Regions from separate parts of the Homo sapiens genome. Here region 2 is linked to region 1. Evidence: fine-mapped expression QTL. A gene starts in region 1. The other region holds a variant in brackets. All regions are shown on one strand. Distances are from middle to middle. Region 1 holds the start of SLC25A48 (solute carrier family 25 member 48). Region 2 overlaps SLC25A48 (solute carrier family 25 member 48).

Region 1 (8,707 bases):
GACCTGTACAATTTGAAGAGAACCAAGGCTGCCCTAAGGCCACTTAGATTAAGAAGCCCTTTGTATTAGTTTGTTCTCATGCTGCTATCAAAGACATGCCCAAGCCTGGGTAATTTATAAAGGAAAGAAGTTTAATCAACTTACAGTCCCACATAGCTGGGGAGGCCACACAATCATGGTGGAAGGTGAAGAAGGAGCAAGTCATGTCTTACATGGCAGAAGGCAAAAAGAGAGCTTGGGGAACACCATTTTATAAAGCCATCAAGTCTCATAAGACTCATTCACTACCACAAGAACAGCACAGGAAAACTCGCCCCCATGATTCAATTACCTCCCACTGGGTCTTTCCCATGACACATGGGTCTCTCCCATGACATATTATGGGAGCTATAATTCAAGACGAGATTTGGGTGAGGACACAGCCAAACTATATCATTCCACTCCTGGCCCCTCCCAAATCTCATGTCCTCACATTTCAAAACAAATCATGCCTTCCCAACGGCGCCCCAAAGTCTTAACTCATTTCAGCATTAACTCAAAAGTCCACAGTCCAAAGTCTCATCTGAGACAAGGCAAGTCCCTTCCACTTATAAGCCTGTAAAATCAAAAGCAAGTTAGTTACTTCCTAGAAACAATGGGGGTACGAGCATTGGGTAAATACACCTGTTCCAAAAGGGAAAAATTGGCCAAAACAAAGGGGCTACAGGCTCCATGCAAGTCTGAAATCCAGTGGGGCAACCAAATCTTAAAGCTCTGAAATGATCTCCTTTGTTCCATGTTTCATATCCAGGTCACACTAATGCAAGAGGTGGGTTCTCATGGTCTTGGGCAGCTCCATCCTGTGATTTTGCAGAGTACAGCCTTCCTCCCAGCTGCTGGCATGAGTGTCTCCCAGGAGTTAGCAAATGCTATCAACATAGCTCATCTGCATGCCCCACTGCAAAGGAAAGTGCTCTGAGAGGTCACCATCAGGGAAGAAACTGAGGGAGAAAGGAAATGGGGTTTCTTTTTTAAAAAATAATTTTATAAAAAATTATAATACCCATGAGGCTGGCAATGAGTGTCTGTGGCTTTTCCAGGTGCATGGTGCAAGCTGTAAGTGGATCTACCATTCTGTGGTCTGGAGGATGGTGGCTCTCTTCTCACAGCTCTACTAGGCATTGCCCCAGTGGGGACTCTGTGTGGGACTCCCACCCTACATTTCCCATCCACACTGCCCTAGCAGAGGTTCTCCATGAGGGCCCCACCCCTGCAGCCAACTGCAGCAAACTTCTGCCTGGACATCCAGGCATTTTCATACATCCTCTGAAATCTAGATGGCAGTTCCCAAAGCTCAATTCTTGACTTCTATCCACCCACAGGCTCAACACCATGTGTAAGCTGCCAAGGCTTGGGGCTTGCACCCTCTGAAGCCACAGCCCAAGCTGTACCTTGGCCCCTTTCAGCCATGGCTGAAGTGGCTAGGACACAGAGCACCAAGTCCCTAGGCTGCACAGAGCAGAGGTCCCTGGGCCCAGCCCAGGAAACCATTTTTTCCTCCTAGGCCTCTGAGTCTGTGATGGGAGGGGCTGTCACCAAGGTCTCTGACATGCCCTGCAGATATTTACCCCACTGTCTTGGTGATAAACATTTATCTCCTTGTTACTTATGCAAATTTCTGCAGCAGGCTTGAATTTCTCCCCAGATAATGGGTTTTTATTTTCTATTGCATTGTTAGGCTGCAAATTTTCCAAGCTTTTATGATCTGCTTCGCTTTTAAACATAAGTTCCAATTCCAAACCATATCTTTGTGAATACATAAAACTGAATGCTTTTAGCAGCACCAAAATCACATCTTGAATGCTTTGCTGCTTAGTAATTTCTTCCACCAGATACCCTAAAACATCTCTCTCAAGTTCAAAGTTCCACAGATCTCTAAGGCAGGGGCAAAATGTCACCAGTCTCTTTGCTAAAACATAGCAAGAGTCACCTTTATTCCAGTTCCCAACAAGTTCCTCATCTCCATCTGAGACCATCACAACCAGGACTTCATTGTCCATATCACTACCAGCATTTTGGTCAAAACCATTCAACAAGTCTCTAGGAAGCTCCAAACTTTTCCACATTTTTCTGTCTTCTTCTGAGCCCTTCAAACTGTTCCAACATCTGCCTGTTACCCAGTTCCAAAGTTGCTTCCACATTTTCAGGTATCTTTACTGTAACATCCCACTCTACTGGTACCAACTTACTGTATTAGTCCATTCTTATTCTGCTAATAAAGACATTACTGAGACTGGGTAATTTACAAATGAAAGAGATTTAATTGACTCACTGTTCTACATGGCTGGGGAGGCCACACAATAATGGTAGAATGTTAAAGAGGAGCAAAGTCACATCTTACATGGTGCCAGGGAAAAAGAGAGCTTGTGTAGGGAACTCCCCTTTATAAAGCCATTGGATCTCATGAGACTTATTCACTACCATGAGAACAGCATGGGAAAGCCTGTACCCATGATTCAATTACCTCCCACAGGGGTCCCTCCCATGACATGTGGAATTATGGGAGCTACAATTCAAGATGAGATTTGGGTGGGGAAACAGCCAAACCGTATCAGCCTTGTTGCAGCAGTTAGTGACTGAAATTGAAAGGGAAACTGTTCTTCAAAGACAAATTCCCGAGAACACTGAGGAGGAAGGAAATATCTGTGTTAGTAGAGGTGATTTAACCAGGTAGCTAAGGGCTCCTGGAATATTAGATATTTATAGGGACAAAGAAACCAGCTAATCCCAGAACAATGATTCCCTGGGTCCAGAACCACCTGTCCCCTCTTATCCCCTCCTACCTACTAAACTGGGCAGAGGCAGAGAGGTGATGGCAGTAATTAACCCTTCCCAGTAGTGGGGGGAGGTGCGCTGGTCCTCAGGCTCCATGGCTTCCCCCATAGTGAGTGCACACATCCTTCAGCTCAGGGCAGGCTTAGATCCAGCCTTGGGCCAACATCTCCCTGCCACTTATTAGCCCACCCATCTGAAAGCAGGGGATTTGAGATTTAAAAAAATGGGATTATAAGGTCAGTGATTTCCAGACCTTGGCACTTCACAAACCAGTAAAATCTCAAACAAAATGTGTGTGTGTGTGGGGGGGGGGGGTGGGGGGGGGGATAATATCAAAAAAAGGGCAAAATTTTGTTATGCAAGGTTGTTCAGAAAGAGTTAAGATGAAATTAAGATGGCAGATTCTGGTGCCAGGCAGCCTGGGTTGGAATCCTGGTGCCAATGCTAGATGCATGGTCTTAGGCAAGTCAGTGAATTTCTCTGTATCTCAGTTTCCTCATCTGTAAAATAAGGATGCAACGGTACCTACCTCTTTGGGGTTGTTATAATAATTAAAGAACTATACATAAACTGACACAAGAGATCACATATTGCAAGATTCAATTGACATAACATATACAGGAAAGGCAAATTTACAGAAAGGAGATTAAGGAGAGGGAACAGCATTCAACTTCAAATGAGGGATCTTACTGGGGGATGAAAATGTTCTAAAACAAATTTATGGTGATGGTTGCACCTCTTTGTAAAATTACTAAAAGACATTGAATTGTACATTTGAAATGGGTGAATTTTATAATACATAAAATAAACCTTGATAAAATTGTTTTAAAAGAATACATATAGCACTTAAACTATACCTGGCACCTAGTAAGTATTCAAGTGTAGTAAACACTTACCATCATTTCATGGAAGCCAAAAAAAAAAAAAGCCATGTTATTAGTTTGGTGCAAAAGTAATTGCGATTTTTGCCATTACTTTCAATAACATCACCAAAGTAAGGACCAGAATAAAGCACAAAAATCCCCTACTTGCTGTGAGTCGGGGAGGGTTCACATGTTATCACGTTTGGGGATGGGGAGGGGTATCAGAGTCTTGGAACTACTCTGACTCAGCCCTACCTTCCAGGGCATTTTTCAAACCAAGCCATTTGCATCCCTACCGAAGGTGGTCTGCTTATTTAAGGGGCAGCCCACGGAAGTGTCTCCTCTCTCTGCCTGCCCCGCTGAATGGTGGAATAATTGTCCAGTCAAAAAGGACCTGGATATGCCCAGCGGGCCTCAGGCTGCAGCCCCCTAACTGGGAAAGTTAGGAGAGGCGGGTCTCAGCCCCACCCAAGGGCATCTGTGCCAACAGACTTACTCAAGGTGAAAGGAGCCACCTCTGCTCAGGAAGGTGTGAAGCAGGGCCCTGCAGCCACCGGTCTCGGGAGAGAGGTGGTCTCCTGCTAGGTAGGAGGGGAGGAGTTGGGATCCAATCTGGTTTGTTGTTCTTTTCATCTTATTTTTTCACCCCTTTGGTGAGGGGCTACATTTGCCAACATCCCTTTTAGGATAACCCTTTTAGATGGGTCCAAAGAAAGACTTTTTTTTTTTTTTTTTTTTTTTTTTACAATTAGCAAAGTCCCTCAAACTTCCCCCTTTCCTAATAGCTGAGAAAAGAGGGATAGACCAATTGGAAAGAAAAATGGAGAAGCAAGGAAATGAATGCAACTCTCGCCCAGGCAACCCATCCCAGGCCCAGTAAAAGAGTGGCTTCGGGAGCTGTGGCGAAGGGATCAGCAGACCCAACAGTGCCCGGAGAAGGGGCCTTGGAGGTAGGCGATGGCTGACGGTTGGCGGCGGCTGAAGGCAATAAGTGCTCCTCGCAGCCTGGCAATGGGCACCTGCAGCCGGCGCTCCGCTCCCTGCTGTGAGAGCTCTGCTCCCTCCAGTCGGGACGCCCCGTTGGGCCGGCCTAATCTCGAAGCCTGGCTCCCACCACCCTGCGCCCCGGGATCAGCAGCCAAGCGCTACCCTCATACATAAGTTCCCGCGAGCCACGTCCGCAATTCAGGTGTGCACCAGGTCACTGAAGGGTGTGTGCGCCGCCAGGAGCCTCCATTGGCTGTGGGCTTTGACGAGCTGTTTAATCATTACCTCATCAAGTCCCACGGATCCTAACTTAATGAGCAAATCAGAAGCTCAGCCCGAAACGCTGTGAAGCTCTCAGAATTTAGCCCTGGCAACTGCAAGACCACCAGGGGGATCTCGGGGCCGGGCACTCCCCAAAGCAGGCTGCGCGCACAACGGGGAGCGGGATGGCAGCGCACAGAGGCAAAGTTTCCTCAGAGCATAGAGGCAAACTCCGCCAGGCTCGCTCTCTCTGACCGGGGGTCCCCGGTAAGCACACTCACCTCCGATCCAGCCCGCCGCAAAGTCTTCCAGCTGGAAGCTTCCCATGGCCGGCGCTCGGTCTCGCCCTCCCGGAGCCGGGGCAGTGCCCACTTAGAGTCAGTGGGGCATGGCCCGCGGGCGCGAGCGCGCCGCAAGACCGAAGTCGGAGTCTCGAGCACGCCGCAGGTCCTACTCCAAACCCAGTCCCCCAGTCACCGGCTGCGCGGGCTGCCGCGCTCACCTCTCCAAGTGCCGGAGGGCGGCTGACATCACGCCCCCAGTGGACCTTAAAGGCACAGCACTCTGGGTGGATAAGGGTGCGCTCCGCGCGGCTCATCCCAGACACAAAGAGGCAAGGGTCATCAAGTGAAATTCTCTTAGTCCTCCCTTCTCCGGGTTATCCTCTTCCTTGCCAACTTCAGAGCCTCAGCGCCTTTGAACTGAAAGTGCCAGCCGCCCATCCAGAGACGGCAATGCGCGTATCTCCCTGTACTGTGCTGTGCTGACAATGCTGATTCCAATCAGCTGTGGACTCTCTCCCATCCCAACTCTGGGCAGTGATGCCTTTTTGTTCATCTCAGCCATGTCCCACTCAGTACCCCGTGCCTAGAGCAGGCACCTGGTGGTTCAGGGTCATGTCTAACTTTCAGCTACAGCTCTCTAGGGGCCCAGCTCCCTGCCTGGCCCTGGCTCACCCTACACTGTCCGCCCTGGGCCAACAGAAGGCAGAGGTGGTGCTCTGTACCTCAAACTCCCTCTCTGTAGGCAGACCCTACATTCAGCCAGGCCCCAGGCCAGGGGTCCGTGCTCACTGGAGAAGTGGCCTGCTGTGCGGAGAGGCTTTTGATTACAATGAGAGTGTCTTTCCTCCCTTCCTAAGAAGACTCGAAGCCCCCCAGCGTTCTGCTAGTTTCCAGCAGGGACTCAGCTGTGGGTCTCAGCCAAGACACCCCAAGGTTGACAAGAATGGTGAAGGGTATGGTCAGGAGGAAGGGGCCTCTGCTGGGCCTGCTCTTGTCCCACTGGGCATATTCATGTCACGTCATCCAGGTTAATATGAAGCGACAGCCAGCCAGACCTCCTTCTTCCAAAGCAAGACAGAGCCTGACCACCGAAGCTTGATCCTACAAAGGCCTGTCCACTGAGGAGTGGGGACTTGGAGGTGAAGGGACCTTCCTGCAGCATCACTCCCTCCCCTGCCCCGGCACACAGAGAGTGGACCTGTATCGGGAGAGGACAGCCCGGGATGGAGTCGCCGGCCTGGCTAGGGAAGTATTGCAAAGTTCCAGGGAGGAGTGGAAGCATCACACCCCATCCCGGCACCTCAACTTCCTGCTGCTTATGGTGACCCACTCAGTCTTGAGGCTTCAGAGTTGCCATCAGCATCAACCCCAAGCTGTGCCCTGTCATGCCCGGGATATATGCCTAGGGCTGCTATGAGAAATGCAGGTCTCTGAAGAGTGGCCTTTTACTGAGTTCACCATTGGAATGCATCCACAAGTGGAAAGCCTGACAATTCTCAAAACCCACTCCTCTGGAAGACCACCTAAGGGGTGCCAGGCAGTTTGTCATCCCCTCAGTCCTGTGTCAGCACCAATTGAGGAGGTCTTACGTTGGCAGGCAGTGTCCCTGGCAGCCCAGGATGGCCTCCCAGGCCCAGAAAGCTGCTGCTTGAACTACTAACGAGCTGGAGCAGAGCAGGAGTGGGTTGCTTTCCAAAATGAATTACTGTGCTCCATTCCCATATGCATGCCACAAACCTGCCCATGGGGCGCATCACCCAGGGAAGTGAGGGGAGGACCCTAGGTTTACCAGCAACCATGGCCAGGCCTGGAGAATCCCAGACCACAGGGCTATGAGCCCAGGCAGAATGCTGGCTCTGTGGCCAGGATCCAGGCCATCCCTTCTTCCTGGCCTTCGCACTTCAGAGCACCATTTGCAGTGTGCTGCCATTCACATTTGCATTCTACACTCGGGAGAGGGCAGGGCAGCTACTGGCCATTACAGAGAGAAAGAAACTCCACAGAGATCCACTCCCTGCATGACTAGGGCCAGAAAGCAACCCCATTTTCTTTCTCCCTCAGTTCCTTCCCCAATGATGACCTCTCAGAGCACTTTCCTCAGTAGCAGGACATGCAGATGGGCTATGCTGATAGCATTTGTTAACTAGTGGCCCACTCCCCATTTCTTATTTACCCTTTCAGGCCACAGCAATTTCCTGAGCATCAGTCTGTGCTAGTGCCTTGCTTTGGGGAAAGTCTCTGTTTGAGAGGAGACAATCCATCTGAGATGCTACACAGAGGTGGCTGTAAGAGCACTGGAGAGGGAGTCCATCGTTCTACAGGAAGCAATCAGGGAAGGCTCTCCAAACTTGGAGTCTCCTGGCTGCACCTTTAGTCTACACAGCCCCACAGCTCCCACCTCCCCAACCACTCTCTCAGGCAAGCCAACAATCCCCTCCCCATGTCCACCTGCCACACTCGGGCAGCAAAGGCCTGGGTCAGCTGTCCATGCCTGACCTGCTGCAGTGAAGGCGCTGCCCATGCCGCCTGCTCCCCTCTGCTTCCAGATTCCTGCCCTCACCCAGCTTTCCTCCTGCTTCTCCAGCTCTTCTCATCTTCTTCCCTGGTGCCATGGCCCCTTCTCATGCTTAGGTGTGAATTCCTCAGGGCCCCATCTGGACCCTCACCCACCCGTACCTCCCATCTCTCAGCGTATAACCCCCACACCTTGCTTCAGAGTCCAGACATCCCTCTACTCAACACCTCCACCTGGGTGGCTCGGGTCATCTTAGCGCATCCCTCGATGAACTCTCTCTTCCTCCGCCAGTGCCTCTTCAACTTAGAGAAACACACCTCCACCCAGTGGCCACCCAAAACAGAACCTTGGATGCCATCCTCCATTTCTCTCTCCCAAGGTCTTATCCCACCAGCCGCAAAGTCCTGAGTGTCCATCCCCTCAATGACACCCAGCCCTCATTGCTGTCTCCGAATGTGGCTCAGCCCAGCCCTGTGCCACTGCCCTGCCTGGATCACAGTGGACACGGGTTCCTGGGTCCCTCTGCCCCTGTCCTACTGCCCCAGTGAGCTTCTGAAACTTTGAATCTGCTCAGTTTAGTGAACTTTGATGACTTTCTGTGATCTTGAGCATAAATTCCAATTCCCCAGTGTGTTGTGTGTAGCTCAGTAGGACTGGGTCTGGCTGCTTTTCCACTTTGCACCTCAATGTCTCACATTCTGTGCATGTGTGTGACTGCGCACATGCTATTCCCTTGTGGGGAACACCCTCTCCCTCCTCCCCTGGCTAATCCCTGCCCCCTTCTTCTTTAAGACTCAGTTCAGCTGTCACCTCCTGACAGGCCTTTCTTGAAGGCCTTCCTCATCACCCTATGCCACATGGTATCTTCTAGATCTCATCTGTGTTTCCTGAATATTCTGAGCATATCTGTATCTCTGCTGTCAGACTCAGTGGTTGATTGTCTTCCCATCCAGACTGTGAGCCCACTGAGAAGAGGGTACTGC
Region 2 (8,707 bases), 49 kb before region 1:
GGCCTGGGAGATGACACGAAAAGAGAATGCCTCTTGCCACCACACCTAAGGTGTGGTATAGGGAGGACCACCCACTGGCCCTAGGAAGCTGGGCTTGATGCAGCCCCCTGAATAGTTTCAACGGAGAAACCAAAGATTTTCACACAGGGCAGAGAGGGGCACTGATGTGTCTTGGAGGATGGTAAGGCTGGAGAGGCCTTGGGATGGGCACATATGTCAGGCTCGGACCACGGGACAGGGACCAAATGGGACTGAAGATGCTTATACAGAAGCCACCCTGGAGGGAAAGCCATGCCCAGGACTAGCCAGGAAGAACACCAGGGTAGGACAGAGCACCTCCCAGGACCCTGAAGCCTCTCCCTAAATCCCAAACCTCCCAGATCTAAAGTCAACCCCAGGGGAAGGTGGAGAAGGAAAAAATCTTGAACTGGGCATTTAACTTGGAATTTCGAAGTTTTACCCTGAAATGGCAAAATTATTTTTTTCTGTCATCAGCTTGAAAAAAATCTCAATTTAGTTAATAAAAAATAAAGAAACTTTCATTTATTTGCTGCAGACCTGAGGATGTGATTTAATCACTCAACAGACACTAATAAGTGCACAGTGAGGAGCACGCACTGGACTCAGCGTGCGGTGAGGAAGGCGCTACCGCTGTCCTCAGGATCCACGGGTGCAGGAGCGGGGAAAAACCTGGTCGGTGCTGAGAGGAGACTGGAGGCACGGGGACGTGTTACTTGAGACTGGAGGGAGTGGCTGAGCCCAGAGCTCACTGGCCCCTCCCCATCCTCAGACAGAGGAGTGAAGCAACGTTTCTCTGGGTGGTTTCTGGCTCCCTGGTGCTCATGGTCAGGACTTCTCAGCTGGACCAAACATTTCTTGGAAAGCTCTTTGATGCCAGCCTAGCAGAGTGGGCATTGGGGATCAGAACCTTGGAGGGCTTGAATCAGTGACTCATGAGGCATCCCAGGCATCAGAAGGGCCACGTCAGTGTCTGCACCATCCTAGCCCACGCTTGCTAATTGATGTCCACTTGGAGGTCCAAAGGCCAAACATCTGCAGCTCTCAGGGCTTCACATGCAGAGATGAGGCCCAGGGAACACTGTAGTCATCCTGTGTTCACCTCCTGGAAACAGCAAACAACCCAGACTCAGAGAAGAAGGCAGGCAAAGAACAGAAACCAGAAAAATCACACCAGGCCACCCCTTCCTCTAACCCCTATGTTTTGCACTTTACAGTTTACAAAAACACTTTTGCACTTGATTCTTGTGGAAGCTGTGCAAAGTAGGTAAGGGAGACCAGTGTGGCCATTTTACAGATGGCTCAGGGGGCACTGCTGCCTGCAAGAGCACAGGGGGCACTGCTGCCTGCAAGAGCACAGGTGGCTGATGGCCTGCGTGAAACTGGAACCCAAGGGGAAGGCCTCCCTAATGTGAAGTTCTTGCCACCACAGAGAAGGAAAAGGGCAACGCCAAGGGAGATGGTGAGACCCAGGAAACAGGAAAAGAAGTGTCACGGGGCCCAGGTGTTCTCACCACAGGGCCAAGATCGTGCACTCCCAGACGCGGATTCCTGCGGAGGGTTTAGTTGACCTCTACTGCCACCAAGTGGTGGTTCTGCAGGGTATCAGCCTTTGGGCGAGGGATATGTATATACACACATATATATGTGTGTGTGTGTATATGTACACACACACACACACACATATGTATTTTTTCCCCTGTAGGGCAGCAGTTCTCAAAGAGGACCCACGAGGTCAAAACCACTTTCATAGAACACTAAGATGTTATCTGCTCTTTTCAATCTTATGTTCTCACAAGCATACGGTGGAGTTTCCCAAAGGCTATAATGCAAGTGATAACCCATAGACTAAAAGCAAAAGCAGACAGAGGAACACAATTGCCCTCTGTTTAAGCCAGACTTCGCCGCAAAAACGGAAAACGCAAGTCTTCTCGTTAATTATATTGGTTTAGAAAGAATCGTTATTTTCATAGAATGTTATTTATGTTAAAATGTCATGGGTTTATTATTATACCTAAATGGATAAATATTTTTGAAATTCTGTTTGAATTTCCAGTAATTGTTGGTAAATATATAAGCAGTTGTTCTTCGAGGTCCTTAATAATTTTCAGGAGTGAAAGGGGCTGCTGTTGAGGACTGCTGCTGTATGGTAATGATTTTTGTTCTTCTTTTCATCTTTCCTGGTAAGGCAAATTGGCCAACCCTGAAGCCCCCCAACTCCAAGGCACAGACACCAAAACTGGTGCTTGGCTTGGAATTCTGTTTTGTTTTCATCCTTCTTAAAAATAGGATTCCATTTGTTTAAAGACTTTCCTGACCATGACAACAGAAATTAATGCCTGATACTAAGCTCCCTGAGGGCAGGGTCCCTGCCATTGTCACCCAATGCCTGTAACAGCACTGGCCACAGTCAGACTACACACACACACACACACTCTCTCTCTCTCTCTCTCTCTCTCTCTCACACACACACACACACACACACACATATATATATTTTATATATATATATATATATATATATATATATATATATATATATATATATTTGGTTAAATAGAACCATAATGTGTTGATGGAGGAAGACTCACAAGCTGTTGGCCCAACTATTCCACAAGATTGCCCTCTCCAGAAAAATCTAAGAGGAAGCAGATCCATTGCTGGCTGACCCCTCCCAGATCTGGCTACCTCATGAGATTTGTTTGGGCTGGAGCTGAGTTTCTTCAATAAAGCCGAGTTTCATTCATTGCAGCCCAGGTGCTCCTGAGTGGGAGTGAAGGTGCAGAAGATGTGCTGAGGCATTGTCTGCCCAGCATGGAGGAGGGCGGGGGGAGGGGGTGTGGCAGGGGCTGTTACTCAGAGCTGGGCTGAGGCTGGGCAGCGAGGAAGAGCCAGCCCGCAGCCTGGAAAACAAGTATCCAGCAGGGAGCCCTAGCTCTGCAATAAGGTGTGCTTTTATTTTAAGAAATTATAAAAACAATATATGTGTGCTGTAAAAAAATTAAAACATTACAATAATCACCATCATCAAATCACCATCATTATAGTGATGTACAAAGAAATCACCAACATCAAATTCGGAACTGAAAGCCTTCTCCCAATCCCACATCCCAGAAATAGCCACTATTAAATTTGGTGTGTATCCTTCAAGGGTTTTTCAATGCCCATATAATTACCCATATACGATATATATTTTAAAATGAAAATGAATAACATCATATATGTTATTCTGCCCCTCCATTTCTGCACTTACAATGTTGCTGACATATTTCCATGACAATATATGTGAGATCTATCTCATTCTTTTTAGTGGCTGTTTGTTCAACCCCCTCTTCTATTGATAGGCATTTAGAAACTTTCTGAATTTTCATTATTACAAACAATTCTCAATTAACATGGTCATGCTTGCATTTTTGCCCATTAATTTATGCTTCCTTTATTCTAAACCCTGTTCATTCTTGCTGCTATGCTGAATCTAAGGATTGGGAAGACTCAGCCCTGGCTCTGAAGGGGGGCACAGGCCAGTGAGAAAGAGAGGGTGCACAGACATGACTGTAGCACAGGGAGGGACACAGTGCCAGAGGGGTCACGTTGGTGGAAGGACCATGGATGCTGCTGGAGGGGAGAGAGAGAGAGAAGCAAGGAAGCCCTAACATCTAAGGGCTTAAAGCATCTGAGCTGGGTCGAAAACAGGGAGCATTCCTGTTCCTGGTGATGCTGGGGGTAAGAGTGTCCTGTAGGTTAAAGAAAAGCATAGAGGCAGGGAAGCCTGGAGGGTGTTGGGCACACAGCAGCTGGCCCAGCAGGCTTGTGGGATCACTTGGGAACCCTTTCAGCAACATTTAAATGCCCATTGTATGCCTGGCACTGGATGGGATGGGGGAAATGATGAGAGCACAGGGAACCTGGACCAGAGCAATGGGAGGTGGGTCCAGAAGGGCAGTTCTGATGTGGTTGATGGGAGGCCTTCAATAGCAGTTTCAGACGCCATACTTATGTGTCCCAACAACTTTGTCTTTTTTACACCGTAAAATAGCCATCATCATGGCTGCTGGCGATGTACCCTGGGCTGGACAGCAGGGAAGTGTAGCCTCAGGAAGATTATCAAATGGGATTGGTGGTAAAGTCCTGAGCTGGGGCTCAGGTATGTTGGAGCCTCAGTTCCTTCATCTGTGAACTGGATCAGCAATGCTTCTCTCTGCATGCCTCCTTCTACCATCAAGAGGTGCCATGATGATTAATAGAAACTAGGAAAAGCTCAGACACCTGAAGAAGGTGGTTGTTGCATCTCAGCCTCATCAGGAGCACCCAGTAGAAGACCCCAGTTGGCCTTGTGGACACAGCACCACTTCTAAACAAACTGTGCAAGCATGCCTCGCACCGGGAAATGGTCCAGTTGAGGCAGACTTAAGAAACACATTCTAGGATGTGTTAGAGCAGAGACTTCAGGTCTACCCAGGGATGAACCAGGTGCCAGAAGCATCTCTTCACTCGCATCCTCCGTGCCCACCCAGACCCAGTGATACTGGGGCAGACAGGCAGGCTGGTCTCTCCCATCAATAGAGCCTCTCCAATGCACCAGAATGACATGCCACTGGAGTCCCTCATGGCTGTCCCCACCACCTAGGTCAGCATCTGCTCAGCAAATGTTTGATGACTGAACAAATGAATGAATGTCCCACTGCTGGAGGGTGGGCAGCTTGAACAGTAACTTGCAGAGATACCCAGGGGACCCTGCAGTCCCAGGGGCTGTGAAGGAGAAATATTGAGGAGGGCATGCTGAGGGTTTTATTTCAAGCATGGAACCCTCCGCTCCAGTAACAGGTTTCACACCGAAGAGACGGAACACTTTCAACTCTTTTGCACCATAGAATTGCTTTGGTCTTCGGTCTATTAAGACAGAGATTTTTCAGAGACATGGCCCAAATCACTCAAAGGCAGGGGGTGGTTGGGGAACAGCGTAGTGGAGAAACCAAGGAAGACCTTTTCAAGAGAAAGAAAAAAGAACAAATTTGAGGACATTTCCTTCACTGGGATTTAAGCCAGGGATGGCAAATAGATTCATTTTGTATGACAGTTCTGCACGGCTGGTGGTGGCTGCCACGGCACTGTGCTGAGAAAGACTCTGAGGCGCCACTCAGCTCATCAAGAAAGGGCTCTATGATTGACTAGGAATGCTTGTTGTGGGCACAGAATTGGAAGAGGCTGCAGGGACACAAGCCACATAACAGCAAAATAGCAATGGCCTCCCCA[C/A]GCGGCTCTAGTAAGGAATAAAATTTAGAACAATGAAGTCACTCTGGAAGCCAGACTGTGGATCAAGTGTTTTGTTTTGTTTTGTTCTCCATGTAAAAATAAGGCCCAGAGAGTGCCCACCCCAACCAAGCCCAGGGCCAAACTCTCTGAAGCAAGTCACCAACGTGTGCCACTGCTCAGGGTGGGAGAACCCCTAGAAGGTTTCTGTCCCTCATCACCCTGTTCAACCACTACGCCCTCTGCTGCCGACCTTAGGCATCTGGGAAAAAAGAAGCCAGGCTGCCCCGGCTCAGTTTCTCTCCTCACCTGTGTGGAGGGGTTTTCCCTCTGGGCCTGCAACACCCACAGAGGCCTGAACAGAGAGAGAGGAATGACAGTGGCCAGGTGCCTCTTGGAAGCTAGGCAGAGGCATCTGACAGAGAAACAATGTGAAGAGGTTTTTAATGCTTTTATTTTGAAACTTAGAGCCAACTCCAGCTCTTCCATGAATTCACAGTGAGTTTACAATGGCCATGGGGGGAGGGTCTATTTTACTCCAGTTTTGTTTTGTTCTGTTCGTTTGTTTGTTACCAGGTGCAGGTCCAAAGCTGGAATAGTTGGTGATCAGTTGACCAATGGTCAGTTGAATCCCTCCAAGGCAGAAGCTCCGCTGCCCCAGCCGGGGTGGGGATGAGAATGCTTGTAATTGTGAAGGAAGGAAGAGGTTCTGAGGACAGCCTGCCTGGCTGAAAGCCCACCTGGTGGAGAGTCTTTCTCTTCAGTAAATTCACATCATGGGTTCTGCAGACACTTTTAGCATTGACCTGTTAATGGGATGAGACCCTGGGAAAAAGGAGGAAAGACAAGAACATCTTCTAACGGGAGTCTTGAAATCTTGGATCTTGGGGTCAAACAACCCATTTGGAGACTGGGTTTGTGAAGCAGTAAGAGGCAAAGTACAGACTGGCAGAGGCTCTCAGGGTTGCCGGGGCTATTTGAAAATGTTCAGCAAAGGTATCATAAGAGCACTATGTCTTCTTTCCTTGAAAATCAGTTTTCCTGAAACCGAAAGTAGGCTAGTGAGACCTGCAGCATGCATGTCAGGACCGAGGGCAGACCAGCACTATTCCAGGGAGCTCTGGGGGCTGGTCTTGGACAGGTAGGGATGGCAGAGTTGGATTCATGAGCCACAGACAAGTCTGAGAGCCAGCCACTGGTAAGTGGTCGGGATGCCACTTCTACCACCAAAGGTCACTGATCTTCCCGCATGGAACTTGGAAAAGCTGGGGGATATCTCCATGCCTGGTTGTTGGAAGGCACCTGGCAACTGCTGGGAGCTGGGTGATCTATCCCCTGCAGGCTCTTAGAAACAATTCTCAAGTCATCCCTGTCATCTGTACTCAGGAACTCTCGAGATGGTCCCCATCCCGCCACTTCTTAGGGACAGCTTGGCACCCTAGATCTCTAATATACATCATCTCACTCTGTCCTGGGTCTAGACAATGAGGGAGGCATTCAAAGAGTAGGTGTGACTGCTGCCTGAGCATGGGCTTCCCCAAATCTCAGAGCTACTTGGTAAATTAAAATCCAGTCTTGTTAAAAGGCCTTGGTATTTGGGGGTTAGAGCAGGAAGTTGAATGCCATGGGCAAGACTTGTTTAAGATGAATCTGCAGACCAGTGGCTGGGAACCTCCCTCTCCCACCAGGAGGCAATAGCCTCCTCCCTGCCTTAGCAGTCCTCCCTCCTAAGGGAGACAGACATCTATGCCCCTTGCAAGAAAGAGCGCTTCCAGAAAGAAAAGCTTCCAATTGGGTTGGTCACTGCTTGTGAAAGGCTAAATGCAGGACAATCGTGATTGGGTAGCTAGAAATTTCCTCCTTTGTCCTGAAGCAGTTAATCACCAGGGTGGTCACAGTGGCAGGTACGACAGGTTGGGCAGGCATCCAGCCACTCTGGGATCTGGGAGGTCTTGGCATTAAAACCATCTTGTAGCTGAAGATTTCATGACATGGGAAAATGGTCCCAAACTACTAAATGGGAAAAGAGGGCTGTAAAACACTGTGTAGAATAGGATCCCAATTTGAAAATACACATAAGACATACTTGGAAGAATAACAACAAGGTCTTGTGATGACAGGTCTTATTATTTTGTTCTTTCTGTTTATTTAAATTTTCTATTTTTGTCTACAATAAAAATGCCTGGCTTTTGTTATAGGATTTTTAAGAAATTACTTTTCTCTGTTAAAAGGGGGAAATGGCCAATATCTGAGCACAGCTTTAAGAATAAGATGAATTCCTTCCCTATCCTGGATGCCACCCAAATGCAGTAATTCTTCACTCAAGATGTTTAATTATGTAAACTGTGTTGCTACCCTTTTCCTTTTATAAGAAAGGGCAAATAGCCAGAGAAGCTGTGAATGTTGCCACTTTAGCAAAAAGTGGAGAGCATTTTATTTGAAGCCAGCTTCTGGGGCTTGTCCTGGGCTGACTACAGTCTGCCTGATTGGTCAGGCCCCCTCCCTTTGTCCAGGTTCTGGCACCACCCGTGCACCCTGGCAGGGCTCTGCCGTCCCGAGAATGCCCCTGCCAGCTCACGGGGGAGGCAGCAGTGAGGTTTTATAGACAAAGATCATCCTTCCCAGGAGAATTTGTGCTAACCAAGACTGATGTCAAATGGCTTCTTGGTTGACTAGAAAGTTCAGTCCACACTTACTTTGTCTTCTGAGCTTTGCAGGTAGCCGGTATGGGGCCAGACAATGAGGAAGAAAAAACACAGGGAGGAAGAGGAGGCCTGAGGGCATATGGGGGTTGGTCATCCACCCATCCGATGACACTGCTGAGTGGCCCTTTGTGTGCTGGGCTCTGTGCCAGGCACCATTAGTGCAAAGGTAGGGACAGCGCAGCAGCCCCACCTGGGGAGTGAGGGTGTCCTCTGGCATTTAGGATGCAGTGTGGGTGGGGGTGGGGGATGGTCTGCAGAAGGCGCGACTCACCCTAGCTGAGAAAGCAAGCCGGCATCCTGGAGGAGGAGACTTCTACAGCCTGGATGGCAAAGAGCTGGTGAAGCCAAGGACAAGTAGGAAAGGAGCGAGAAGAGGATGTCAGGCAGAGGGGACAGCCTGAGCAAAGACCTAGGGGTGAGAGAGACGGCGGGACATTCAGAACAGTGGTGAGGAGTGAGGCTGGCGGAAGCAGGGTGAAGGCTTTATCTAGAGGGCAATGGGGAGCCAAGGAGGGCATGTGAGCACAGGAGTCAGACTGCTGTCTTTAGAAGAGTCCTCAGGCTACAGTGATCTTTCTGCAATGAGAAAGAAAAAGAGGGTATGGGAGGCAAAGAATGGTGGCAGAGACCTGTCCTCTAGGGCTCTGGCAGCCTGTGGGTGGCTCTCAGAGTCAGGCTGTGCAGTTCAGTAGGGAGGTGGGGAGACGGTGCCCCCTGCAGGTACCCTGGTTGCA

What was found.
Region 2: its variant is fine-mapped to the expression of SLC25A48 in tibial nerve (GTEx, PIP above 0.99).

Annotation. Positions count from the first base shown.
Region 1 is chr5:135,831,393-135,840,099 of GRCh38, reverse strand. SLC25A48 (solute carrier family 25 member 48) reads right to left here and starts at 5,437. Exons shown (of 8, transcript NM_001349336.2): 1 at 5,207-5,437. The coding sequence starts at 5,252. RefSeq lists an enhancer at 5,971-6,472.
Region 2 is chr5:135,880,448-135,889,154 of GRCh38, reverse strand. SLC25A48 (solute carrier family 25 member 48) reads right to left here. Exons shown (of 8, transcript NM_001349336.2): 8 at 518-1,123. Among named protein-coding and RNA genes, the nearest start is that of IL9, 11 kb to the left of the region's middle. The variant C/A (reference allele first, on the strand shown) is at 5,272.